Linked DNA regions of Homo sapiens. The protein of the gene in region 1 interacts with the protein of each later gene in a pairwise test. Each region holds a gene or a part of one and is shown in the gene's direction. Other genes may lie near its edges. The genes, in order: CLEC7A, OPRM1, BNIP3 and SUSD3.

Region 1 (7,790 bases):
TTTTTTATTTTAACAGGTTTTGGGGAGCAGGTGGTGTTTGGTTACATGGATAAGTTTTTTAGTGGTGATTTCTTATATTTTTGTTGCACCCATCACCTGAGCAGTGTACACTGTACCCAATGTGTAATCTTTTATCTCTCACCCACCTCCCGCCCTTCCCTCCAAGTCCCCAAAATCCATTGTATCATTCCTATGTCTTTGTATTTTCATAGCTTAGCTCTCACTTATAAGTGAGAACATACAATGTTTTGTTTTCCATTCCTGAGACTCAGCTATTATGAATTCGGTTCTTTCAGCTATTTTATTGATGTAATATTCAATCTACCTCTGGGTTTCATTAATTACAATTTTAGTTTATAAAATGTGTTTTCCACTTCTAAGAACTCTTCTCAGATTGCTCATTTTTCTTTTTTCTCTTTCTTTCTTTTCTTTTTTTTTTTTTTTGACAGAGTTTTTGCTCTTGTTGCCCAGGCTGGAGTGCAGTGGCACGATCTTGGCTTACTCTTGGCTCACTGAAGCCTCTGCCTCCTGGGTTCAAGCAATTCTCCTGCCTCAGCCTCCCAAGTGGCTGAGATTACAGGCATGCGCCTCCACGCCTGGCTAATTTTGTATTTTTAGTAGAGACGAGGTTTCTCCATGTTTGTCAGGCTGGTCTCGAACTCCTGACCTCAGGTGATCTGCCTGTCTCTGCCTCCCAAAGTGCTGGGATTACAGGCATGAGCCATTGCACCCGGCCAGATTGCTCATTTTTCTTGGATGACCCACTTGTTTTATAGATGAAAGTTTTCAACAAACTTCACTGAAAATGTAAGTTAGATAACTGGTTTGTTTTTTGTCTTTTCTTTTGTTAGGTTGGTTTGTTTCCACCTGTTTCTTTCCTTTTTTTTTTTTTTTTTTTTTAGATGGAGTTTCACTGTTGTTGCCCAGGTTGGGGTGCAGTGGCACGATCTTGGCTCACTACAACTTCCACCTCCTGGGTTCAAGTGATTCTCCTGTCTCAGCCTCCTAAATAGCTGGGATTAAAGGCACCTGCCACCCCACCCAGCTAATTTTTTATATTTTTAGTAGAGATGGGGTTCCATCATGTTTGCCAGACTGATCTCAAACTGCTGACCTCAGGTGATCCACCTGCCTCAGCCTCCCAAAGTGTAGGAATTACAGGCCTGAGCCACCATGCTCGGCCTTCCACCTGTTTCTTGCATTAACATTTAATGAGGGGTATTTTTCTCTGAATACCCAGCCTATCTCTCCCACTGTCTTGAAATACGAAGGGTATTGTTTTTCTAGTTTGTCAATGATTTGCATAATTAATGTTTAATTGCTTTATTTTAGACAAAGAGACAAAAAAGGAGAATAATGAGAATTAGACTAAAGTTTATGTTTATTGAAAAATTTCTTTGACCACTTAGAGAGTTAACTGTTTTCATAGGATTGTGATTAAACACAGGGTGACAGTCAAAGTCACTATAGGGAAAAACTCTCCCACTGGAGGTCTGATTTGATAGTAAAGACAGCTTCTTATTACTGACTGCAAGGTACTCCCCTCATTATTGTTCTCTAGTTCTCTATTTCTATTTAAGAGGTCGACCCTTTTTCCTGGAGCCAATGTATTCACTGTTTGAGAAATTCCATGGTATCCCTTTGTAGGGGTGAAAGATTCCTTTTCCTCACTCATTGCTAGGTTCACGGCATCTACAATAAAACATAGATCAACAAGAGAATAGCATCCAAATTTATTTAATAGAAGTTACCTGAACAAACAGGCCTTGTTAAGTTCTACTCAGCTTATTACCATTAGATTATACCCTTTTGTTCTCCAGTCATACTTCTGCATAACTGTCCGTAGAAATACTCAGTTTTCCCTGCGTCTTCATTTCAGAAGGCTCTCTTGTCGTATAACATTTACATGCTTTTGTTTTGTTAATCTGTCTTTTGTTATAGGGGTCTCAGTCACGAACCTGGTGATGGGCAAGGAAAAGATACTACTTTTTCTCCCCTACGTTGGACAAGGAGGGTATGATCTAATGCTAATAAACTGGAGGGAGCTTAGCAAGACTAATTTGTTCAGATTCTTCTTGGCATCTCTGTATCTTCAAAGATAAGGAAGTTTCTTTCCTCTAGGAAACAATACTTCTAAAATAAGGGTCTTATGATCTGCTTCAGGGCAGAAAGACGGGGAAAGGTGTGAGAGTGAATTTCCTGATTCTGCTGTTTTCTCAAATGCCAAGAATCCATATTTTGGGGTTGCATGTCCTGAACCTCATACGCTGCTTTCCAAGCACTGCATTATAGGACTGAAACACTGATGAATGTTGAGATTAAGATCCACATTACCACTTTGCAACATGTCTACAAAAACTTAGTAAAACTTTTGTGGCAGCTTAAGTAAGGCGGGAAGCTCATTTATGTACTCTCTTGAGCTCTCTTCCATTTTGATAGGTGTTAGACTGTCAGAACTGCAGAGCCCTCATCATATAACAACTCCTCCCAAATCTCTGCACTAGAGACTTGGCAAACTCTAGCACGCCTTCTAGTAGCCTAAGGCAAGGTCCATAGGATGATTCAGCACTACTTAAAAGGCCAGCCTGAGGAAGCCCAATGCTGCTAGGAGAATTTACTTTTTGTTCCAGTTAAAACTTGTTAACAGGCCAGGTGTGGTGGCTCATGCGTGTAATCCCAGCACCTTGGGAGGCCGAGGCGGGCGGATCACGAGGTCAGGAGATCGAGACCATTCTGGTTAACACGATGAAACCCTGTCTCTACTAAAAATACAAAAAATTAGCCAGGCATGGTGGCGGGCGCCTGTAGTCCCAGCTACTTGGGAGGCTGAGGCAGGAGAATGGCGTGAACCCAGGAGGCAGAGCTTGCAGTGAGCCGAAATCGCGCCACTGCACTCCAGCGTGGGCAACAGAGCGAGACTCTGTCTCAAAACAACAACAACAACAAAAAACTTGGTAACAGATAGGCTCCTGAATTCCTTTTAGAGCAGTTACTTTAGAAATCTTACAGTTAGGCCAGGTGCAGTGGCTCACGCCTGTAATCCCAGCACTTTGGGAGGCCGAGGCAGGCGGATCACCAGAGGTCAGGGGTTCAAGACCAGCCTGACCAACATGGAGAAATGCTGTCTCTACTAAAAATACAAAATTAGCCTGGCGTGGTGGCACATGCCTGTAATCCCAGCTTACTCAGGAGGCTGAGGCAGGAGAATCGCTTGAACCCGGGAGGCGGAGGTTGTGGTGAGCCGAGATCGTGCCATTTGCACACCAGCCTGGGCAACAAGAGCGAAATTTCGTCTAAAAAAAAAAAAAGAAAGAAAAGAAAAATAAATCTTACAGTTAAATTCTTTCTCTGCCCTTTGAGAAGCAAATCTACCACACAGAACTGTTTCTTCAAGGACTTGGGAGCTGTTTCTTTGAAATGCAAACATTCAGGGAGATAAATCTTGCTCTTTCTTTCAGATGCAGCATAAGGACCAACTTAGCTGGGTGCTTCACTTCAACTATCACCATGTCCTTCTGTCATATAGATAGGCAAAGTTTCTCTGTCCTCTGGATAAGGGCCAATTAACAAATCCAGAGAGTCTAGTCACATTAACTTTCCTTAACACCACTCAGTATCTTTTCCTTAGCAAACTCCACTTTAAAATGTCATCAGCTTTACTTTTGGGGAAGTTGAGTTCAGTTAATGCTGCACTGGTTCCTGTTGCAATAGTATTACTGAATAAAACCTGTCCTCACCACATTAACTAGTATCCAGATTTGTTGATCCTTGACAACACTCAGATGTCTCCTGCACTCTACTGGCTTCAAGGTCGGATAAATGAGTTGAACACCTCTTCAGTTTCCAGCAATGTTAGGTGTTTTCTATATTTCTTTGATTTGATCATTACTATGGAAACTGGAAGAGAGGGAAAAAAAATCAAACATCTAACATAATATTTCAGTCCCAACACCTTCCATAAGCTGTTCCTTGCAATATAAGTGTATGGAATGATGAAAGAGGCAGTGTAGCGTAACAGAAAAGACCACGAGTTTTGCAGCAAGAGTCAGCTTTGATTTGATTCCTTGCTCTAAATTTTTAAAATTAGCTTCTTAAACCTGAGAAAGAGGCTAAATTTTCTGTCTCATTTTTTCATTTGAAAATAGAAATAATAATGCCTACTATATAGACTTGGAAAAGTGAGATTGAACAAGAAAATATGTACAACATGTGGTACTTAGCTCATAGTAATTGTTCAATAAATGTTATTTTGTGTTAATATCTGATAATTCCCAAAGAGATTTGTTTTCTCTGTCTGTTGTTACAACAATGCATCTCCTCATGCCATCCCTCATTTACCTATCTATATATTTCCTTTATTAAGCAATGAGTTTCTTCATAGGTATCATTTTTCCTTGTATTGTAAGCTCCTACCAATTGAAAAGGTGGGCATCCAGTACCTGTTTATGTAATTTAAAAAATACATGAATAAATACATGAACAAAGTTATGGTAAACTTGGAGCACCAAAACTGAAATAGTTTGCATCGGTTAAATTAATTAATGTCAGACTTAGTTGTGAGAGTAATGAAGGCAGCATAAGACATTAATGTATGCATTTTTCTTACATTTGGTCTGAAACAAAGACTCATCTGCTATGCTGCCTTTTAGTTTTCCTGAGTCAGCAGTCTCAGAAACAGGATCTAAAGGTACAAATGGAAAATTACCACAGCATAGTTTCATTTCCTGCTCTTGAATATCTGGTTGAACTACTTAAGCTTAATTTGTTAAACTCCGGTAAGTACCTAGCCCACATGATTTGACTCAGAGATTCTCTTTTGTCCACAGACAGTCATCTCAGGAGCAGAAAGAAAAGAGCTCCCAAATGCTATATCTATTCAGGGGCTCTCAAGAACAATGGAATATCATCCTGATTTAGAAAATTTGGATGAAGATGGATATACTCAATTACACTTCGACTCTCAAAGCAATACCAGGATAGCTGTTGTTTCAGAGAAAGGTATATATATGTTTTTTCTAATGTGTGCCTTTAGCTCTCCCGTTTGAAAAGATATAAGGGGAGGCTAGGCATGGTGGCTCACACCTGTAATCCCAGCACTTTGGGAGGCCGAGGCGGGTGGATTGACTGAGGTCAGGAGTTCGAGGCCAGCTTGGCTAACGTGGTGAAACTCTGTCTCTACTAAAAATACAAAAATTAGCCGGGCATGGTGGTGCACGCCTGTAGTTCCAGGTACTTGGGAGGCTGAGGCAGGAGAATCACTTGAACCTGGGAGGTGGAGGTTGCAGTGAGCCAAGATCATGCCAATGCACTCCAGCCTGGGTGGCAGAGCAAGACTCCATCTCTGAAAAAAAATAAAAATAAAAACAAAACAAAAAGATATAAGGGGAGAAAATTTGAGAGCCTCGTGATGTGTATATTTTTATGGATATACTTTTAAAGGCTTCAGATGTCACTGAAGATAAATTGAATGCACCCTAAACCTTTTTTCATGAAAATTATTCAGTGACCAATTATTAGTGTTTAAATTAATTATGTCTGATGGCAGAAAATAGAATTTCTCTTTTCTATAGATATAGACATTTCATCAGTGAGGAATTGGTAATAAGTGGGATAATACACAAAGATAAAGGATTTCTGTATGAGTGACTTGTTGCTTGTTTGATAGAAAGGCTAGATTATCGAATGGAGGCCAGGAAACTTAAAGAAGTATATATATGAACAACATTTTTTTTTTGTGGTAAGAGATTAATTTAAATTGTTTTTAAACAAAAAACAATTATTGGTATACCAGTGATGGAAAATATATGAACATATGGTAGATAAAAACATCCCACCAGCAGGACATGAGTCTTAAACAAAGTGTAAATGAAATGAAATAGAAAGAAGGGCATTGGAGGATCTCTGTATTCATAGAATGGGTGATTTAGCCTACTCTACGATTCTCCTATGTGACAATTCTATGAAATGTCCTGACAGCTTAGTCACAGTGGAAAGCAGAAATACATTCTGGTTATGGCAATGTTCATACAAAATTAGTTCCCTATTATCTTTGAGAGAGAGAGATCATTTGTCGGTTTTGACACCAGAGTTTGCTTTCTTCTGCTTTCTGGTTATTCACACTGCACAAATATTTTCCTCTCAGCACTGATGTAATTCTTTTCTTGGGCAACCTATTGAGGAAGCGTGGAAAAAGTGGATGAGGCAAGAGGTAGGGAGACATGCGCATGTTTATGCATATGTGTAGGCAAACGGTATCCTGCAACAACACACCTATCATGTGCTAGCAGTCTCTAAACAAGGTGCTTTTATATGTGTTAGCTCGTTTAATTCCCGCAATAATCCTTTGAGATATTATTACCCCAGTTTCACAAAGAGGAATAAAAAACAACAAAGGGAGTAATTTGCCCAGGGTCATGCAACAAACATATGAAAAGGGAAAATTACCCTTAGTAATCAGTGCTATCTCCCCAACATTAAGCTATTTCCTCTAAGAATCAGTGGGATTTCAGGGATCCTACTAATGTCAAGACCTGTAGATGTCAATGTGGAACTGAAATTAGGAGCATACAGTTATCAAGCCAATGTGCCGAAATTACAATTCCAGCAATTGAAGAAGAAGGTATCCTTACTGGTGGAGAAGCACAGCAAATCCTAGGTGACCAGGTAACCTAGGCAGTGATTAATAATTCACTTAAAAATTTGCCAGTATTTTTTGTTGTTGTTGTTGGTGGTGTGTGTGTGTGTGTGTGTGTGTGTGTGTGTGTGTGTGTTTTAACAGGGTATCACTTTTTTGCCTATGCTGCTCTGGAATTCCTAGGCTCAAGTGATCCTCCTGCCACAGCCTCCAGAGTAGCTGGGACTACGGGAGCTCACCACAATGCCCAGCTAATTAAATTTTTTTTCTTTCTTTGTTTTTCTTTTTTTTTTTTGGTAGGGACAGGGTCTCCCTGTGTTGCCCAGGCTGGTCTTGAGCTTCTGGCCTCAAGCAATCCTCCTACCTCAGTCTCCCTTCTGGGATTACAGGTGTGAGCCACCGTGCAAGGCCAGATTTTTGATGAACTGTAGAATTAAACTGCCCCACCATCCGTCATTCTCTTTCTTTATTCCATTTCTGCCCCCTCTGGCTCCTCAGGATCGTGTGCTGCATCTCCTCCTTGGCGCCTCATTGCTGTAATTTTGGGAATCCTATGCTTGGTAATACTGGTGATAGCTGTGGTCCTGGGTACCATGGGTGAGTATTTGGTGGAGGAGATTAACAACAGACAATTTAGTAAGCAATTATTATGTGCCAGGCACTCTTTTAAGGGCTTGACATGCATAATCTACTTTAATTTGTATATAATCTGGTTTTATCTGTATTGGGTTGGTGCTGTTAATGCCCATTTCACTTATAAAGGGTGTGAGAGACTGAGAGGTTATTTTACCTTTCCAGGGTTATAAGCTAGTTAGTGGTGGGACCATGATTAGAAATTTGGGTGATCTGTCTAAAAAACTCATACTCTTAACTACATTGCTCTCCTACCTCCCTTACATAGCTGGTTTCAAAGCTGTGGAATTCAAAGGATAAATTAATGAAGAAAACAAGCGGAGCTGAAGAAGAAAGTACAATATGGTGCTGTCTTCCTAATGAAATAAATTCACTAAATGGACATTAAGCTATTTTTATGATTCACATTATTTAAGGAAATTATTTCCGATCTTTAATATAAACACCTTTGAATACACCAGAAATTTCCTGAGGCACTTGGTCTTAAGTCGATATTTTGTAATGGATTAATATTTTTTTTACA
Region 2 (7,028 bases), on another chromosome or scaffold:
GACAGGGAAAGCATCTGGGGACTGAAGCAAGTATGTCTATTTAGCTGAGAACATTTAACTGACTGTCTCCAGGCTGCGGTGTTTAAACTACAAAATGATCAGTTCAGGGATGTATTGTCCTTGCTAAAATGCTGGATATAATGTTGCATCTATTAAGTATTGAGGAGAAATGTTCACTTCCTTCCCTATTTAAAATTCAACAAATGCTATTGAATGATCAAGTAGTTGCAGTTTTCTGATTATATTAAGGTAATATTTATTAAAATGTTTTAGTACATTGAGTGAATCATGAGGCTCAGATGACTATGGCAACAACAACAACAAAAATAACTGCTAACATGGACGCTGTGATTAACTCTTTGGTTCTGTTTGTAACACCATCATCATCATCCCCTCATCAACAACATTATTAAGTAGTATAACTTAAATGAGATTCTTAAACAGGGCTACTCTAAGGAATACAAGGGAGGAAAGGAGAAACTGTAATATGTTCTAAAGATTTTAAGTCCAGATGTTAAGTGATAAAAATGTTATCAGTAACCATCACCTGAAAGCTTTTTTGGTTTTAAAGAAAAATAATGCTTGGAGAATAACCTTATGAAAATTATCACAAAGATTTTAGAAAATGTGATGAAAATACTACAAACAGTAGCAATCACTTAAAATGGGATGATAGTATTTCATTGTCAAGAACTGTAAAGAAAAAAAATCAAAACAAAAAGTAACAGCCACCAGAGATGTTTCACTTTTGGGAAAATATTTAATAACTGAACCAGACTATAGAATTACCCATAACTGCAAAAACTAATATAATCCCAGATGTGTTTATGTTGGGAAATTCTTTTTCCAAGGTTTGTTCATGTAGCTATGAACATGGTATGTACAGACACTGTTGAAAAGTGGAGGGCTAGAAACTTTGAGATTTCTGTGGGCTGCGTAAACCATCCTTCCAGTAAATTTCCAATGAAGAGTGCCAAGTAATAGTACCTTCATTTTTAAGATTATTTCTTAATGTGGTTAGATAAATTCTCAATATAACTAATTATCAGAGAAGAGCATTTAAATACGTGCAAGATGTTATTGTCATTTCTCCTTCCTAACAAGTATTTCTGATTTTAGAAAAAGTCCTGTGAGCTTATACTTGTTCTATATACTAAATATTTGATTCAGGTTTAAATTTAAAAATGATCAGTTATACTTGATTGAAACAGAAGTATAAGCTTTTAAACTTAATCTAGATTCAGGTAGCTACAAATTAGTGAACAATAATGTTTTATCTAATATAAGGATATATATGTGTGTGTGTGTATATATATATATATATAAATTCACACACACACATACATATTTGAATCAATTTGAATGCATGTCACTAAATATGATCATTAGTAATTTTCATAAAATAAAAAGATAATAGTTTATTTACTCAAATATTAATAAAATTCACTTTTCTAAAACCCACAAAATATCCTAATTAGAGGATGGATTTAAAGTGAAAAACACTAAATAAAATTCAGTTCTCAATTTAATGGCTTACATTAAAAAATACTAACTTAATTGCATGCCTTTCACTTAGTAAGGGAGAGCTCCTGGTACCTATTACAATTTGAACTTTAAGTGCTATTTTCCATATAGAAACTAATTCAGAGGAGAACAACTCTTCTTCTGTGTCTTCTAAACACACTAAATTGCTTTTCCTTTCCTTGGTTGTAAGCTGTGTCTTTGTCATTTGCATGACATTACCAATCAACGAGTTTCCTATATTCTTCTCTCTCTCTTTTCTTTCTTGAAAGAATGACCTATCTGATATTTTATGAAACATCTCCAAAGATAAAAAATATATAATTACAGAACAATTCTTCTCTTAAAGGATGGATGGATAGATAGATAGAGAGAGAGAGAGAGAGATAGACAGACTGAAACAGTTGAAGTCTCTTCTCTGCTCCTAATACCCTCCTGTCACTGAGACTACCACTATCATAAATTTAGTGGTGAGTTATTCACATGCATGTTTTTAAACATTTACTACATATGGAAACACATATATATATAGTAAACATATGGAAACACACATACATAGTAAATGTTTTTGTATGTTCTCATAACTTTTTATAATTGGTACCATATCATATGTTTAAGCTTAAACACATAATTTCCCTAATTACTCCAAGTTGTTATAGTTCCAGTAGGCCAATGCTAGAAAATAGATGTCAAATAAAACCAACAAACATAAAAGAAAACAAACAAACATTCGGGCCATTAACTCTTCTGAGTACTTTTAACTGATCTTATTTTTTTTTAAATGTGTTAAAAATTATTTGTAAAAATTTATTTGCAAGCATTTTTCTAAGCTAATTGTTTTAATTAATATTTAGGTATAATACTCAGAAAAAAACCTCAGCTACTGCTGCAAAAAAAATAAATCGGTTAATAAATTTAAATAAAGCATAATTTCTCTACTGCTAAGAAGAAAATACAAATAATTAATTGGTGTCTGTAGGTATTCAAATAATAAATGCTGACAATATTTACTTTGAGATTTTGAACATCTAATAGGATCTCTTACATATAAAAGTTGAAAATATTATTTCTCCTAGGATTCCGTTTAAGGCAGTAGTTGAAACAGATATTTTAAGGTCAGATGCAAGAAAAAATAAGCTCATTTTGAGAAATAACATACAACTATATGAGATTTAAAAATGTACTAGTGGTGGTCAGGCACTGTAGCTCTTACTTACAATGCCAGCGCTTTGGGAGGCTGAGGCAGGTGGATCACCTGAGGTCAGGAGTTTGAGACCAGTCTGGGCAACATGGTGAAATGCTGTGTCTACTAAAAATAAAAAAAATTAGCCAGACTGGGTGGCGCATGCTTGTAATCCCAACTACTGGGGAGGCTGAGGCACAAGAATTTCTTGTACCCAGAGGCAAAGGCTGCAGCGAGCCGAGATCGCACCACTGCACTCCAGCCTGTGCAACACAGTGGGACTCCGACTCAAACAAAAAAAATAAATTAAAAAAAAAAGTACTAGGGGTAAATACCAAGACTAAATGGTGCATGTCATTTTAAAATACAAGAATTCCAAGTCTTTAGTCCTCACTAAGTTTAATGTTTATCTGACTGAAATAATTATCTGTGACAGCAGTCTTCAAACTTGTTTTTAGATGTAGACACTTATTTCAAGAACTTGGGACCCAATATATAAAACAGATCACAGAACAACTGTCCAGATGTAACCACATGTTGAGACCAAGAGCACTGCTCACCTTGCACCCCCATGCCACCCACCAGTGCTGTCCCCAAGGGACCACCATAGAATTTCTAGGGCTCCACCAGGCAAAATTTGAAAGCAATGGCTTTCACGTTGTTTCATATCCTTCTCGTGCCCACCTCATGTCCTTCACCTCGCCTTCTACCTCAGCCGTTGATATGGCAGTCAGTTTCCAGACATAACTGAGTAACACTTCACCTTGGCTGCATCTAAATCACTTACTTTCTGCCCTAGGGCTTCTCTACTGGAGTAATTGCCCTCCATAGGAATCAGCCTGGCACTCACAAAGGCACTATTTGGAAGTTCAGGAAAGTTCCCTTGACCAGGAAATGGAAGCCTGTGGAAAAATGCTGCCCTTGCTCCCCTCTCTCCTGAGGTGTACAATTCTGAGGTGCCAACTACAAGGCACATCAGAAGGCCCCGCCCACATTGTGACCGTCTCAAAAACATGCCTCGTTTTCCTCTTCCCTGGTTTACTCTTCTAGTTTCCCACTCCTTGCCAAGCAACCACTTTTCAAAATGGTTCACCTTCACACAAGGTCGTATCTCACACTCTGCTGAATATCCTTCCTGTTATTTTATAATTGGTGACTATACGTTAGCACAGTAAAATCTGTTTAATAAATAGAGCTCTTACAGACCTATCAATAAAGGTTTTCTCTTAACTATCAAAAACTCGTAAGAAAAATTCTGATAGGCAGCACCAGTTAGAACTACCAAGAGAGTTCAGAAGCTAAGCTTTTCCTTCCATTTTTGTTCCTGCCTTGGGATTTAGGAAAGGCTTTTTTGGGTAGGTTTGGCTGAATGGAGAGAGAGTGGGCACCAGTCATGTCCAGTGTTCAGTTTACTTCTTCTTGAGCTCAGGATAATAGGAGCAGAATTGTGTGTGCCATGTAAAGGAAATAAAGCCTCCTGTGCCTTCTGGCAAATTATCTGAGGGTATAAGAAAACAAACAAACAAAAAATCCTGCCACTCCCTTTTCCATTAATTTCATGTTATATAGTAACGTTAAGAGTATCTTGTGATTAATTGAGCTCAAGAAAATTTCAGTCTTCAAAAGTGAGCTGAAGCATCAAATGCAGGAAACGTCATATACAACAAGCATCATATACTGAGCTTACCAAGCAACTCCTTTCTTTACCCATCCTTTCTTGCCTCAGGTAACTTTTTTTCTTTCCCCATCAATTTCTCAGATACAAATTTAGAAAGGAAGAACAGCAAGGAAGAGAAACCTTGCCCTGGCTCAGGGCCCCAAGTGTCAGTTGTGGCTCGACTTCAAGGCACTCTGCGCCTCACTCTCCTTATCTGTAAAAAGGTGCGAATTGGACTAAAAAAATCTTAAACGCTTTCTAGTACTAAAATGTCCTATGGCAACTTCAATGACTATTAAGAGCATGTTTTTCCCAGCAATACAATCTGGAGGAAAAGAGGAATCATCCACAAAACTAAACAATCGTGGTTGCCATTCCATCACAGCCCTTTGGATTCTATATAAGCTCAAATAGGTTCTGTCAAAGGGAGAAAGAGTGAGTGTGCTCTGAACTGCCAGGTGTGGTGTTTATGATTAGGACAATAAGGGAAACAGAAAGTTACAGTCAAGCCTTTATTCATATGCTTCGAGAGTACAGGCAAGTGGTTAAGTGGGAAAAGGTGCAACCCCATCATGTTTCATTCCCCCCACCCCCACCCCACAGAAGCCACCAGGTGAGCATCACATGTTTGAGCAGAAATGCAGGAAGGAGAGGGAAAAGTCATCTTCTTACTGCACTGGGAGGCCCAAGCAAAAGGTCCTGCTGTTTTGTGTACCTGAGGGCCTGGGTGCAAGATGGGGAAAGACAAGGAATGAAAAACAGTGAGTCAGAGTATGTGCTGCCTCCTTAAGGGTTAGGAACGCATAACCTAAAAGCGTGACTGGCAAAGGTGGAGCGTGGGCAAAATTCTCTCTCTCTCTCTCTCTCTCTCTCTCTGTCTCTCATTCTCTGTTTAATTTTTAGGAGATGGTTTTAATATTTGCCTTTAGGTATTAGTCCTATCCTGGATGTTGTATTCCAAATCTGATGCAAAGAGGTTCCACCAAATCTAATCAAGTGAACTTTCGTAAACCAATGGATAGGGCTTTCCCATAAGATGAAGTGTGTGATGGGTTTAAATGAGAGAGAGATCATTCTGTTCTGGATATGTGTCTGTCCAGGCAAAAATGTTGTTAAGTACAATTTTTGTTTGTTTGTTTTTTGTTTGTTTTAAATAATATGTTAGCTTATGCACTGTATGTAAGTAGGTGTCTTCGTGTGTTCAGGCTGCTATAACAAAGTACCATAGCCTGGGTGGCTTACAAACTACAGAAATTTACTCTTACAGTGCTGGAGGCTTGAGGAGTTCATGATGAAAGCACCAGCAGATTCTGCATTTGCTGAGGACCTTCTTGCAGAGACAACTAACTTCTCCCCATTTCTCCACAAGGCAAAGAGGCAAGGAAGCTCTCTAGGGCCTCTTTCATAAGGGCATTAATAGTGTTCATAATGGCTCTGCTCTCATGACCTAATCACCTCCCAAAGGCCCCACCTCCAAATACCATCACACTGGGGAATAGGTTTTCAACATGTGAATTTGAGGGGAACACATTCAGTTTACAGTAGGTGTCCTAAGTGATTCAAATATTAACCACTCATATTCACTGAAAACCATTAGTGTGATTTAAATTAACGTTTACGTAAATTAGGCCAACCTGATTCCTTCACTATCTTCCAATATGCTTCATGTTTATCTCTTCTATACTGTTTCCTTTATTTTTCTTTCTCTCTGTTTTCCTGTAACGTATCTCTCATTCTTTTCCTATCAAAATGTTTCTTGTTCTTCAAGTATCAACTTAAATCCATCCTTTCTTACAGCCTCTCCAAAGTACTCCTACAACCAATTTCCCTGCAATATAACCCAAAATACATGCTACCATTGTTAAAAAAAAATTATGCATTTTCTCATGGCCTTATAAAATGTCACTTGATAAAACTTAAAGACTTGAACTATATCTATCTCTTTGTGTTTAGGTGAGAAATCCAACATTCAAAGTTGACCAACAGAACTGAATATCTTCAAAATACTGTACAATTCTAAGCTATTAGCAATTCAGATGTACCTCAAATTATTCAAGTATAAAATCTAATTTAAATAATTTTCTCAATTCACTTTGTTCATGCATATTTAGCTTTTATCACTTGAGTCATGAAAAGTGATCTGTACCATAGATACATATTAGCAAATCATAAATTCAAATACAAACACATACATGTCTATATATGCATATATTCCTGAGTTTACAAACTTTAAAAAGGGAATATATGGTTACTCTTATAATAAAAACTCAGAAAGTAAAATTTGAAGAAGTAAAAACATAAAAAGTTAATATAGTCAATTCCCATTATTCATGATAGTTATGGTCCATAAAGTCATTATGACTACAGAATTCGTGAGTACTGAAGCTTTGCTTCTAGGGGATATATAGGGCAGGTTCCTGTGAGCCTCTGATTATAAAATTTTCATCAGCTAATGCATTCGTAACCTTGTTTTATGTGTGTTTCTGTTTAAAGACGCTTTATTTAATATATAGCTGATTCACTAACGTTGAACTCATGGTTAACAGCACTATAAATCATGCCTGAACAAAGCTTCTGTAACACAAGTACTTTCCTCATAAGCCACATCACAGTCTTCTTGGCTTAGGGACACTAAGCAGAACTTCCACACTATGTTTGAGACCATTT
Region 3 (4,768 bases), on another chromosome or scaffold:
CAGGGTTAGTAGCTGACCCTTCCGTGCTAGCGCTTCCCTCAAGGCTTTCTTCACCAAGGAAACAAGGAGTCCCTGTTACCCAGGCTTTCTCAGGGACATCCCCTGGCCCCACTCCGAGGGGCAGCATGATTTCGGGAGCCCCAGGAGCCCTGGCTGTGGGTGTGTGGGTGCATCCAGGGCGTGCGGCCTGCTCCTGGGCACTTGGGGCTGTACCCAGCTTGGGTGTACCCAGATGTTTGGTGGGTTTGGGGAGCTATATTCTTGAGTATTTTCAATTTTATTTCTTTTTTTTTGAGACAGGGTCTTGCCGTTTTCACTGTTTTACACAAAACTTCCCCTAGTTTTAAAAGGAATTAGATGTTCAGGTACAGAATTTTGAAAATGCAAAAAAGTAGAGAAAAACACTTAGACTCTCAGATTTAAAATCCTCTTTAATGTTTCGTGCTGTTATATAATTCTGAGGATTTGGCCGCAGCTGTGGTTATGTGGACATTTCTGCCTTTTCCCTCCTGCTTATCCCGGAAGCATCTTGTAAACCTGCTCACTATACAGTGTCCCTTCCTTCGTCATGTCCCTGTTTTGAGCCGTTTTCGGCTGTTTTCATTTTCTTTTCTTATAACCAGTGCTGCCGTCACCATCTTTGCCCTCATGTCACGTGACTTCCCTAGGACAGTGTTTGCCGCTGTCAGTACCCCCAGAATCTCACAGTGAACCAAATGTATTTACGCCCTGAGTGGGGCTCCCCCAGAGGTGATCTGTCCCTGGAGGCGGCGAGCGTGCTGTGAGCCGGGAGTGCGGCGCGGCCCGGGGAAGGCCCCCAGCCCCAGGACTCCCCTTGGACCACGGTCCGAGGCACTGACATGTGCCTCTGGGCTCTTGAATTGAGCCTGCGGATCTGAAGCTCGGGTGGGAGCTGGGTGCTTTCCCGTGTCACGTGTGGTACACTGATCTGCCTTTAACATTGACTTTATCTTAGTCTGAGGAAGATGATATTGAAAGAAGGAAAGAAGTTGAAAGCATCTTGAAGAAAAACTCAGATTGGATATGGGATTGGTCAAGTCGGCCGGAAAATATTCCCCCCAAGTGAGTGTGTTCTCAGTGTCACGGGGGCACCCCTTGACAGAGGACACATCAGCTGACACGTTTCTTCCCGCCTCAGGGAGTTCCTCTTTAAACACCCGAAGCGCACGGCCACCCTCAGCATGAGGAACACGAGCGTCATGAAGAAAGGGGGCATATTCTCTGCAGAATTTCTGAAAGTTTTCCTTCCATCTCTGCTGCTCTCTCATTTGCTGGCCATCGGATTGGGGTAGGTGATGTGACTGTGTGACTCCTGTCATGGCATGTCGTGGGGCGATTCTGGGTTGCAGTGATTTATTCGTAACCTGTTTCCTGAAGTCCAGATCATCAGTTACAGCTTGGTGCATTTTCACAAACACCCACGTAGTCACTGTTCAGGTCCAGAAACCACCAGCCTGCAGCCCCCAAAGGCCCCAGCACAGGCGCCCTGTGGTGCTGCTGTCTGGCCTGACGAGTCTGCCTGTTGCTCACTGAATATAAACGGAGTCAAAGCAGGGCTTCTTAGGTCTGACCTCTTTGTCCTGTGTGTAGGTGAAAGCAGTCTCATTTCTGTGTAGTACTGTGGCGGGAATGCACCCAGCTCTGCTGTAGGTGGAGGGTCTCAGTTACCTGCTGTACTTCCTCCAGACAGGACTGTTGTTCTAGTAACTCTCAGCAATGAAGGAACCAATGCAGTCTCCGACTTTACTGGCTTGAGTTTCGCTCTTGTTGCCCAGGCTGAGTGCAGGGGCGTGATCTCGGCTCACTGCAGCCTCTGCCTCCTGGGTTCAAGCGACTCTCCTGCCTCAGCCTCCTGGGTAGCTGGGATTACAGGTGCCCACCACCAGGCCTGGCTAATTTTTGTATTTTTAATAGAGACGGGGCTTCGCCACGTTGCCCAGGCTGATCTCGAACTCAAGGGATGGCTCACCTCGGCCTCCAAAGTGCTGGGATTACAGGCGTGAGCCACCGCGCCTGGCCTTTCCTGGCTGCTTATACTCACTCACCCTGCAGAAAACACAGAGACCAGGCAGGCGCCGCTGTGGGTTCTGAAGAGCGTTCGCCGCAGCGGTGGTGAAGAGCCAGAGCGGGAAGCCAAAACGGCTCCTCCTCGGGCTGGTCCCAGCCTCTCAGCGGGGAGGAGGGCTCTAGTCCTGGCGTGCAGACAGTGTTCTGTGGCTGCCGTGTGTTGGACAGACTGGAAAGACCGGAATGCCACTGGGGGCAGGTGGGTTAGGTAGGTTGGCCAGAGGGCTCACATCTGGGGTTGAAGGAAACGGGATAAAAGCCACTGAGTTTCCTGGGCCGGGACCTGAGCGCTGCCCGTGTCTCCACCTCGCCCTCCCGTGTGCGTGGCTTTCTCCTAGCTCTTGGGCACATTCTCACGTCCCCCCCATAACCCGTCACCTTCATTTCTGCTGGTGCTTTTGGGAGTCAGACCTACAGACTGCATCAGCATCACCAGGCAGTTTGCTTTCTGGAGCCTTTTCCAGAACTGTCAAGCAGACTCTGGGGGCAAGGCCTCGGGATCCTCATTTTAAATACAAGGTTTAAGCCCTTCGTTTCAGGATGGATTTCTGCAGCCACTACTTCCCAGCTACTGTCCTTCGTCCTGCCCGGGTTTTCAGAGCCTGATGCTGCCACTGGCGACCCACACCCCCTCAGCTGCTTTTCAGAACCACACGATAAAATCTGCCCCGAAAGCTGCTGCAGCACTGTCTGCGCTCACAGTGCCCACCACACCACCGCCCACAGGCCAGGCCAGCCAGGCTTCCGATTCTGCCCTTTCCTGGAGACCCATCCTCCTCCCTCCGGGAGTGATGCCCGCTGGTCAGCTGGAGCGAGCCTCTCTATTGCCGAAAAGCCTTTTCTGACACTCCTGCATCTTTAGTTTGGGACATCTCTCCCACTACCAAACTTAAACCACATGAGGGCAGGGGCTTCATTTTTAAGCAGTTGGCTTTGGTGAGGCTGGTGGTGATGAACTAGCAACACCATCTTGCCCTGGTAGGTGACTTCCCCCAGCACTGAGTTGGAACAAAGCAGAAGCTTTCTGTGTGGAAACAGCATTCGGTTTGGTGATCCTTCTATGTAAGAATACGATCTGATGTTTTCTAAGTTAATTAATACAAAATACATATTGATAAAACACTAGATAAAAGATCACAGATAGATTCATTACAAAATTTTTATAATGGGTATAAAATCACCAGTCCCCTTGCATAAGCTCTAACCACAGTGAGCTACCCTGTTTCAGCTGTAACACAGTCTCCTGTGAATCACAAGATACATTAACTACTGATAATTTTTCTGTGAAGGATCTATATTGGAAGGCGTCTGACAACCTCCACCAGCACCTTTTGATGAAGAACTGGAGTCTGACTTGGTTCGTTAGTGGATTACTTCTGAGCTTGCAACATAGCTCACTGAAGAGCTGTTAGATCCTGGGGTGGCCACGTCACTTGTGTTTATTTGTTCTGTAAATGCTGCGTTCCTAATTTAGTAAAATAAAAGAATAGACACTAAAATCATGTTGATCTATAATTACACCTATGGGATCAATAAGCATGTCAGACTGATTAATGTCTACTGTGAAAATTTGGTAGTAAATTTTCATTTGATATTAGATATAAATATCTGAATATAAATAATTTTAATATACTAGTCATGATGTGTGTTGTATTTTAAAAATTATCTGCAACCTTAATTCAGCTGAAGTACTTTATATTTCAAAAGAATGAATAACATTGATAATAAAATCGCTACTTTAAGGGGTTTGTCCAAAATAAATATTGTGGCCTTATATATCACACTATTGTAGAAAGTATTATTTAATTTAAATGGATGCAGGTTGTCTACTAAAGAAAGATTATATATAACTATGCTAATTGTTCATAATCAACAGAAACCAAGATAGAGCTACAAACTCAGCTGTACAGTTCGTACACTAAACTCTTCTTGCTTTTGCATTATAAGGAATTAAGTCTCCGATTATTAGGTGATCACCCTGGATGATCAGTTTTCTGCTGAAGGCACCTACTCAGTATCTTTTCCTCTTTATCACTCTGCATTGGTGAATTTAATCCTCTCCTTTGTGTTCAACTTTTGTGTGCTTTTAAAATCAGCTTTATTCTAAGCAAATCTGTGTCTACTTTAAAAAACTGGAAATGGAAAAAAAAATAAATCTTTGCCAAATCCTTCAGATTACTGTATTTACATATGGTTTAAAATCAGACGTCATGATAGCTTCTTAATGAAACCAGGACTGGTCCCTATTTTGACATTATCTTTCCTACAGCAAACTTTTTAGAAAGGCTGCCTGCCGCCTTGATGTTTCACCTTTCCACGCTTAATTCGGGTGTTAAATCTAACGTTTTCATTTGTAAAAATCTTTGTTGATGCTACCTTGGAAGCAGTCATCTCTCAGTCTTACATTTGGAGAATGTGGATGGCATGACATCAGAATTCCTTTATATAATTTAACTTCAGAATAGTCTGAGATCATCGAAGCACGATGGTCAAGGGAATTCCGTTTTTGTTTTAGAGCAAATATGTTTGCTGTTTGTCTTTCATCACAAACATCAGTGGAGTTTCAGCACCTTACAGAGCTCAGTGAACCCCCTGGTCACCATCAAAGTTAGCACACAACAAAGCCAACCACGTGTCCCCCTCACAGATGACAATGGCTGAACTCTGAGTGAAACCACCT
Region 4 (7,924 bases), on another chromosome or scaffold:
CTGCTATCTGCCAGCCCAGTGGTGGCCAGGTAAAGGCCTTGGTGTGCAGGATGAGCATGGGGGGAGCAGCCCCTGGCCAGAGTTTGTCCCTCCTAGGCCCAGCTGTATCCCAGCTTCTAAACTGGCCTGGCATGCAGTAGGTGTTTGGTAGTAGCTGTTCCATGAATCTGTCATTCCTTCTGCCCTCTGGGCGCCTTGCTTTGTGTCTCTGCATCACCATTTCTGAACCTGAGGGCGGCAGCTCGATGTCATGTCACCCAGGCTGACTGATCTGCTTGTGCAGGCTGCAGCCAGGTAGGACAGTCTGGTGGTCACAGCTCAGGCCCCAGCAGGGGAGTACCCCCGGGGAGGGGCCTTTGTCGCTCTGCACAGTGGGGACAGGGCTCTTGCCTTGCTTTAGGAGGATAAGTGGTGGGTGTTGAGGGCTCCAGATGGCCCAGCAGAAAACATTTTTGGGAAAATTGTTTTCTCTGCAAACATCTGGCCTGCTAGAGCTTCAAGGTCAGGTTACTTTTTTTTTTTCTTTTTTTGCTTTTAGTTTTTAAAAGGTAATACAGTTTTTAAAAAGAGAGGACACCCATGAGGCCACCAATGCTTCCCTGACTCTTACCTTTTGCAAAAGAACTTTCTGGACGTGGTCTATTGTGAGAGGTTTTCAGAACAAAAATCTCATTTTTCTATTGAGTAAAAACTAAAATCAAGAATAAAGCAAAACAGGCTGGGCGCAGTGGCTCACACTTGTAATCCCAGCACTTTGAGAGGCCAGGGAGGGTGCATCACCTGAGGTCAGGAGCTCAAGACCACTCTGACCAACATGGTGAAACCCTGTTTCTACTAAAAATACAAAAATTAACTGGGCGTGGTGGTGCATGCCTGTAATCCCAGCTACTTGGAAGTCTGAGGCAGGAGAATTGCATGTACCCAGGAGGTGGAGGTTGCAGTGAGCTGAACTCATGCCACTGCAATCCAGCCTGGGTGACAGAGCAAGACTTTGTCAAAAAAAAAAAAAAAAGGCAAAACAAACTGTTTTAGATTTCCACAATTATTATCTAATTTTAGAAAAACTCACCAAGCCAAGAACTCTGCCACCACCAGACTTCTGCATGGGTCCCCTCCCAGGCCACCATGGCCCATGGGTGCTGAGTCAGGCAAATCAAGGGTTGAGGAAGGCTTCCTGGGGGTGGCAACACCTCAGCTAAGGTCTGAGGAAAGAGGAAACTCCCAAGCCAGACCCTCACCTTCCTCTGGAAACCTCTGGCAGCGCACAAGACCCCCATGTTACAGAGTGGAACACTGAGCCCCAGGGCTGGCAGGCCTCCCCTGCCTCCCAGGTTCCATCCAACAAGTGTCCACTGACAGTGCACTGTGTGCTCCCAGTTGCAAATGGAGCTGGGAAGAGGCTGTGGCTTTGGTCAGTTCCTCAGGCTGTGCCTGACTCTGCTTCCTTCTCCCGGCCTGCCTCACCAGCAGCCAGCAGCCCATCCGTTCCTCCTAGCCTCCTCCCCTGCCTCCTCCAGCAGGGAAGCCCATATGTTTTGCGTTTTTTTTTTTTTTTTTTTTTTTTTTGAGACACAGTTTCCCTTTGTCACCCAGGCTGGAGTGCAGTGGTGCAATCTCAGATCACTGCAACCTCCGCCTCCTAGGTTCAAGCAATTCTCGTGCCTCGGCCTCCCAAGTAGCTGGGATTACAGGTGTGTCTGACCTCAAGTGATCCTCTCGGCCATATCCGGCCACATGTCCATAGCTCCACACCTGGCCACATGTCCTCTTCATTTCAGAGACGTGACACAGGCTGAGCAGGCCTTAAGGACAGGCAGCACGAAATGGCTCTGACAGGGAGTGCCATCAGGGAGGGCTCCATGGAGAAGGAGGGTGAGGAAGGCAAGGAGACACACCCAAGCAGGCAGAGCCTAAGCACTGCTCCCAGTTTGTGCCTAGACTTGGAGAGTCTGGGAAACCAGGCAACTAGGACAGCTGAGCGGGTGGGCCAAGCTCAAAAGCTGACGGGCCTTCACAGTCCAGCTTAGAGGCCACCACTCCATCCTGAGCACATCACAGTCTCTCACTTGCCTTGAGAGGGTGGCAGGACAATGTCCACCCCTCAGATGAGAACACGAAGACTCAGTGCAAGGGTGCCCACCCCTGCCCCAGGGATCAGGGAAGCCTGTCAGAGAGCCATGGTTCTCACCATGGAAGGGGGCACCCCAGGCGGTTGTCCCTAGTGGGCCAGTGCCGTTCTTTTCACATGCCTCAGTTTCGCCCACGTGCATGGCTAGAATAGCTGGGCTTTCTAGGAGCAAACCATTCCAAGGGCCTGGGAAAAGGTGGACAAGATGGCCCTGATCAGTGTTCAAATAGGTGACAGGCCCACCTCCAGAACCAGCCTCAGATCCCTCCCATAGCTCCTGAAGATGGCCTTTTGGCAGCAAATGGGTGTTCTGAGCCACAGCAAGGCATACAGTTCCCTGTGGAAACGACATGACAGAGGTCCTTAGGCCACCTCCAGGTCCCCTAACAGTACAAATGGAGGCCCAGCGCCACAAGCCTGAATGTCCACAACCCAACCAAGCGACAGACTGCTCAGAAAAACATGCTCTTTCCTCCTTGATCCCACCTGTCAGGGGCTGAACTGTGTCCCCCAAAATCTATATGTTTAAGTCCTAACCCTCAGTACCTCCAAATATGACCTTATTTGGAGACAAGGTCTTTACAGACTCTTCTTTTTTTTTTTTTTTTTCTTGAGATGGTGTCTTGCTCTGTTGCCCAGGCTGGAGTGCAGTGGCACAATCTCAGCTCACCACAACCTCCGCCTCCCGGGTTCAAGTGATTCTCCTGCCTCAGCTTCCCAAGTAACTGGGACTACAGGCACGCGCCACCATGCCCAGCTAATTTTTGTATTTTTAGTAGAGACAGGGTTTCACCATGTTGGCCAGGCTGGTCGCAAACTCCTGACCTTATGATCCACCTGCCTCTGCCTCCCAATGTGCTGGGATTACAGGCGTGAGCCACTGAGCCTGGCCGGTCTTTACAGACTCTTTATAGGGTCTTAAGTTAAGATGAGGACATTACGGTGGGCTCTAATCTAATATGACTGGTGTCCTTAGAAGAGAGATTTGAACACAGAGAGACACAGGGAGAGCACCATGTGTAGACAGGAGTTAAGTTGCCACCGGCCAAGGAACTGCCAGAAGCTGGATGATACAAGGAAGGCTGTTCTCCTGGAGTTTTTGGAGGGACTGCAGGCCTGCCGACACCCTGATCTCAGACTTCTGGCCTCCTGAACCATAAGACAATAAATTTCTGTTGTTCTCAGGCACCCAGTCTGGGGTACTATGTTACACAGCTCTAGGAAACACACTTCCTAAATGGCCAGGTGTTTAGCATTTGAAGGCTCCTGAAGGCCTGGGTCACAGCGTGGTGGCTTAGGGAGCTGCAGGCAGCCTGGTGTTTTCCATCCCCACCTAGCTCCACCCAGCTATTGGAGGGCTGCCCCAGACCTCCCTCCCAGCCCTGTCCATGCACCTACAGGCAGTGGCCTTCTGCCTGGTGGTGCATGGTGGGCAAAACCAGGGAAGGGACCACACAGGCCTGAGAGGTGGGCTAGGGGCCACTTGGCAAGACATTCTGGGGTCCCAGAGTGTGGTCTGGAGTGGGCACTGCTGATGGCCCTGCCCTTCCCGACATGGCAGAAAGAATACACATGCTTGATTTTGAATAAAGGAGATTGAAGTAAGCCATCGTGTGTGACCCACAAGTCCAAGTGGGAAGAACATATCAGGGGTGACGCCAACCCTGATGGCGAAAGGGGGAGGGCCCCTCACGTTTCACACTGAACCTCAGCTTTGGAGGGCTCGGAAAGCAGAGACGGGGAGGGGCTGCCCTGCTGGAACCCTGCTTCATGGTCCACCTGAACATCCACACTCTTCACGGTCACCTGCCAGGCACTCTAGAGCCAGCCTGGCCCACCTGGGCCACCTTCTGCGCTCCTGGAGGCATGCCTAAGCCAGCCGCACTGGGCTTCTGCTGCCACACATTGCCAAACCAGGGCCTTTGCACCTGCTGTTCCCTCTGCCAGGATTGCCTTTGCCAGCTCCACAGGAATAGGCATGGCTCAGGTGGTCTCCCACAAGCAGCCCAAGATCCAGGATGTCTGAGGCCTGACACCACACCCAACCCTTTGGTGGCTGCCTGGGCAGGGGGCTAAGCCTGGGTTGGGTGGGGTCAGAGGGAGAGAAAGAGCCCGGATCACAGCTCTGGGCCTGCTGCAAGTGGAGCTGGGTGGGAAGGGGAAGCCAGGAGAAGGGAGGCCTCCAGGTGTGGTGGGCCCTGCAGACAGACCCCAGGGCTTTCCATCCTGTTTCCCCCAGCCGGGGGCCCCTCAGTGAGAACCGAAGACAACAAGGGCACCCAGACCTCAGTGTGCCTCAGACGGCCTGGCCCAGTGAGAGACAGGGAAAGAAGGCTGGGTCCACACAGGACTCTGGGGGTGAGTGGGTTACGGGAGGGGCGGGCCGGGGAGGCGTTTTGCTGTTTGCCCTTTGGTACCGGCCGAATCCGGCACCCTGAGAAGGCAAAATCCTGCTCAAAAAATAAAAACACAGAAGCACATGGAAAAACCACACTAGGAGTGAAGGTGAGAACAGGAAGGGATGGGGGAAGGGTGTTGGGCAGAGGTAGCCACGCGTGCAACGCCCCGGAGTAGCAACACTTTCCGCTCAGCCGGCTGCCTTGGCCCGCTGGGTATTTGGTCTCCCCAAGGGCCCCCGCCCACAGCCCCCGGCCGGACCTCGGCCCCAGTCCAACGTGTGGGCGTGGTCTGTAAGTTGCATGGAACCGCCCCTGGGCGGGCGTGGAGGGCGGGGCCTCCCCGCCCCTCACCCAGGCCCAGGCCCAGGCCCCGCCCCCACAAGCCGGGCTCACTCCCCTGGCAGACCCCGCCAAGCGCCTCGGAGCGCGCAGGATGCGCTGGGCGGCCGCCACCCTCCGTGGCAAGGCGAGGCCCCGGGGGCGGGCCGGGGTCACCACGCCTGCCCCAGGGAACCGCACAGGTGAGGGCTGGGGCCGAGTGGCCGCGTGCGGGGCTCTGCGCCCATTTCACAGACGGGAAAGCCGAGGGGAGGGGGTCGCGGGGCCGCACAGCCGTGGGTGGGGGCCACAGCAACGATCTGCCCCGAGGACGAACCTCCTCGACCCTCCGCCGGCCCAGCAGGCGCCCTAGCGGAGCCGAAGCCTGGCAGCGAGCAGTTCGAAACCAGGCGGCTGCACGCAGCAGCCCGCGCGCCCGTTCCCGAGTGGCCGCAGCGCCTTGGTCCCGGGCGTCTGCGGACAGCGCGGCCGGCCAAGCCTCTCCACGCCGCAGGCTCCGGGCCCCTCCGCGCCCCTCCCGGGGAAGTCGAAACCGGCCTCACCTGGCGGGCGGGTGGCGCGGGGGCGGGAGGGGGGAGCCGGGAGCCCTCTCTGCGCCTGAGGGAGGTGTCATCTTCACGATTCCTTGGTGACCAGCGCAGCTCCACTTTACAGATGGAGAAACTGAGCCTGCGAGAGGGGAGTGGCTGTCCGAGGTCACCCTGTAGCCAGGCTTGGGATCGCCTCGGCTGTCTCGGAGGAGGCTCAGAGGCCTTTGGAAGGAAGAGAAGCTGCTTTTTATTTTACTTTTAAGTGTTTGAATTCAAGAATGTGCTTAAAGAGTTGTCTGCTCCCGTGCCCAAGGCTCCGGGGTTCGAATGCTGGCCTTGCTCCTTGAATGATTCTAAAGTCTAACCCTTTTAGAAACGGAACCAAACCGGAACTCTGGGTCTCAGATATCCCAAAAGCTTACTTCCGCGGCCACTGCCCACGAACGTTAGGCCTGAGGGTTCTGGGCGTCTCAGGCGTTGCGGGGCTAAGGCTCTGCGCAGGAGGAAGCTGAGGCCCGGAGTGGGGTGGGCTGGACCAGGTCACACTGTCAGCCTGCAGCCCCAGGGAACTGGCAGGAAGGTGGCAGGAGAATGGCTTCCTCTCACAGTTGGGGAAACTGCGGCTCAGGGAGCTAATTCACCGAGCAGAGGTCCGCAGCTCAGCAAAGTGGGCGCTGAGACTTGTTCCTGGCGCTGGTGGATTTGGTTTATTTAGTTTGACTCTGGCAGCCTAATGTCCAGAGTCCCTAATTTGGTGTTGGGGTGATGAGCACTTTTGCTCCTGTGTTTGAGCAAGGCCTGCCCAGGGCCTGGTACTACCTGAGGAGCCCCTTCTACTGGCACAACAGCCTGGGGGCGTGGGTGCCAGTGCCCTTTGGATAGCCTTGACTTGCCCAAGGTCAGCCCAAGGCCAGGGAGTATCTGGAGGCTCTGGCATATTTGCATACAAAAGGCTGTTTGCCTTGGAATTTGTGCTGGGAATGGAGCTTAGTCTGGCACCCTGTGCTCTTGTTCATCCTGCCTGGCCCTGGCTCTGCCTCTGACCACCATGACCACTTCCCAGGCACTGGCCCCCTTGTTGGAGTTTTGGGTTAGGATCCCCCCTGTGACCTGGGGTGAGTCGCTGTACCTCTGTGCCTCAGTTTCCCCATGTGCCCCAGTTTCCCCACTGTATACCTGCCCCCAAGCTTGTGGACAGGCCCAGTGGAGCCCAGGGAGGGTACTTGTTCTGGTGCAGGGATGATGCCATCATCTGGACTCCATCACTCCCCTGCCATGTGACCTCAGTTTCTTGCTCTGTGAAATGTGCTGTGAAGTTAGAGGCTGGGGGGTTGGGAGCCTTTGGAGAGGATTTGACACTAAAACACCACTGACCAGGAGTGGTGGCTCATGCCTCTAATCCCACACTTTGGGAGGCTGAGGTGGGCGGATTGCTTGAGTCCAGGAGCTCGAAACCAACCTGGGTAACATAGCAAGACCCCGTATCTACAAAAAATGCAAAAAAAAAATTAGCTGAGCATGGTGGCATGCGCCTGTAGTCCCAGCTATTCGGGAGGCTGAAAGGTGGAAGGATTGCTTTCGTCCAGAGTTCGAGGCTACAGTGAGCTGTGATCACCTCACTGCACTCCACCCTGGGCAACAGAGCGAGATTCTGTCTCAAAACAAAACAAAAACCAAAAACATAGCACGGGGATGTGTGTTTTTCCCACCATCTTTAAAATGGGGCCATTACCACTGGTTTTCCTAGAGTAGATATGAAGAGCACAGTAGTGTGGACAGACTGATCTTCCTGAGAGGCAGGAAGTGGTCTTCCCTCATCTCCCATGAGCGCCCTGGGAGAAGGGCAGGGCGCGGGGGAGACTAGCTCAGAGTAGGAGTTTATCATGTTTGTTGTATGACTGGCCCCTGGCCCTGCTCCCAGGTCAGCCCCAGCACTCCCTGATCTGGGAGATTGTCCAGGAAAGCAGGGTTCCAGTGGCTGTAGGTAACCCCCCTGGCATCCGTGGAAGGGCCTTGGAGGAAGGGCCTGGAGAGGGGGTAGCAGGAGGCATGCTCTGCTGGTGCCTTCTTGGCTTCACCCCTGAACTCCTGCCCCAGAACTGGACTGTGTCCATTTTACAGAGGAGAAACTGAGACCCCGTGAATGCATGTGTAAATCAAAGCAAGGCAGACACACCCTGTGATGCCTGGCTATGGCCTCCTGCCACCCATTGGCATCGAAAGAGCTGCTGGTAGAAGGCATAGGTTCCCGGACCCTCGGTTTTCCACCAGGGATGTGGGAGTACATGTTCCTCATTTGGAATTAGCCCAGCTCTTTTATGGAGGATTGTGTGCTTTCCACATCCTGAGGCCACCCTGCTGCTCAGCCTGGAGATGGAAGGCAGAAGTGGCTCTGAAGCCTGTGCTCACCCTCCATGTGGAGATGGGCTCAGAGAGGGCAAGTGACTTACCTGAAGACACACAGCCAGGGCTGTGGGACACCCACATGTAGTGTTGGGGCCAGGCCTGTCCCCACTGCCAGGGTCTTG

What was found.
Region 2: the proteins of CLEC7A (region 1) and OPRM1 interact in binary tests that used the Homo sapiens proteins (3 or more experiments, as listed by UniProt).
Region 3: the proteins of CLEC7A (region 1) and BNIP3 interact in binary tests that used the Homo sapiens proteins (3 or more experiments, as listed by UniProt).
Region 4: the proteins of CLEC7A (region 1) and SUSD3 interact in binary tests that used the Homo sapiens proteins (3 or more experiments, as listed by UniProt).

The regions. Positions count from the first base shown.
Region 1 is NC_000012.12:10,127,188-10,134,977, reverse strand, and holds the start of CLEC7A (C-type lectin domain family 7 member A), read left to right. Parts: upstream 1-4,778; 5' UTR 4,779-4,895; coding exon 4,896-4,998; intron 4,999-7,132; coding exon 7,133-7,231; intron 7,232-7,535; coding exon of another isoform or gene 7,536-7,567; exon of another isoform or gene 7,568-7,655; intron 7,656-7,790.
Region 2 is NC_000006.12:154,042,231-154,049,258, forward strand, and holds part of OPRM1 (mu-type opioid receptor), read left to right. Parts: intron 1-7,028. UniProt on the Homo sapiens protein: Receptor for endogenous opioids such as beta-endorphin and endomorphin. Receptor for natural and synthetic opioids including morphine, heroin, DAMGO, fentanyl, etorphine, buprenorphin and methadone.
Region 3 is NC_000010.11:131,967,179-131,971,946, reverse strand, and holds the end of BNIP3 (BCL2/adenovirus E1B 19 kDa protein-interacting protein 3), read left to right. Parts: intron 1-413; exon of another isoform or gene 414-976; coding exon 977-1,083; exon of another isoform or gene 1,084-1,159; coding exon 1,160-1,309; exon of another isoform or gene 1,310-2,292; coding exon of another isoform or gene 2,293-2,320; intron 2,321-3,377; coding exon 3,378-3,423; 3' UTR 3,424-4,263; downstream 4,264-4,768. UniProt on the Homo sapiens protein: Apoptosis-inducing protein that can overcome BCL2 suppression. May play a role in repartitioning calcium between the two major intracellular calcium stores in association with BCL2.
Region 4 is NC_000009.12:93,053,783-93,061,706, forward strand, and holds the start of SUSD3 (sushi domain-containing protein 3), read left to right. Parts: upstream 1-4,918; 5' UTR 4,919-4,960; coding exon 4,961-5,048; intron 5,049-7,924. UniProt on the Homo sapiens protein: May play a role in breast tumorigenesis by promoting estrogen-dependent cell proliferation, cell-cell interactions and migration.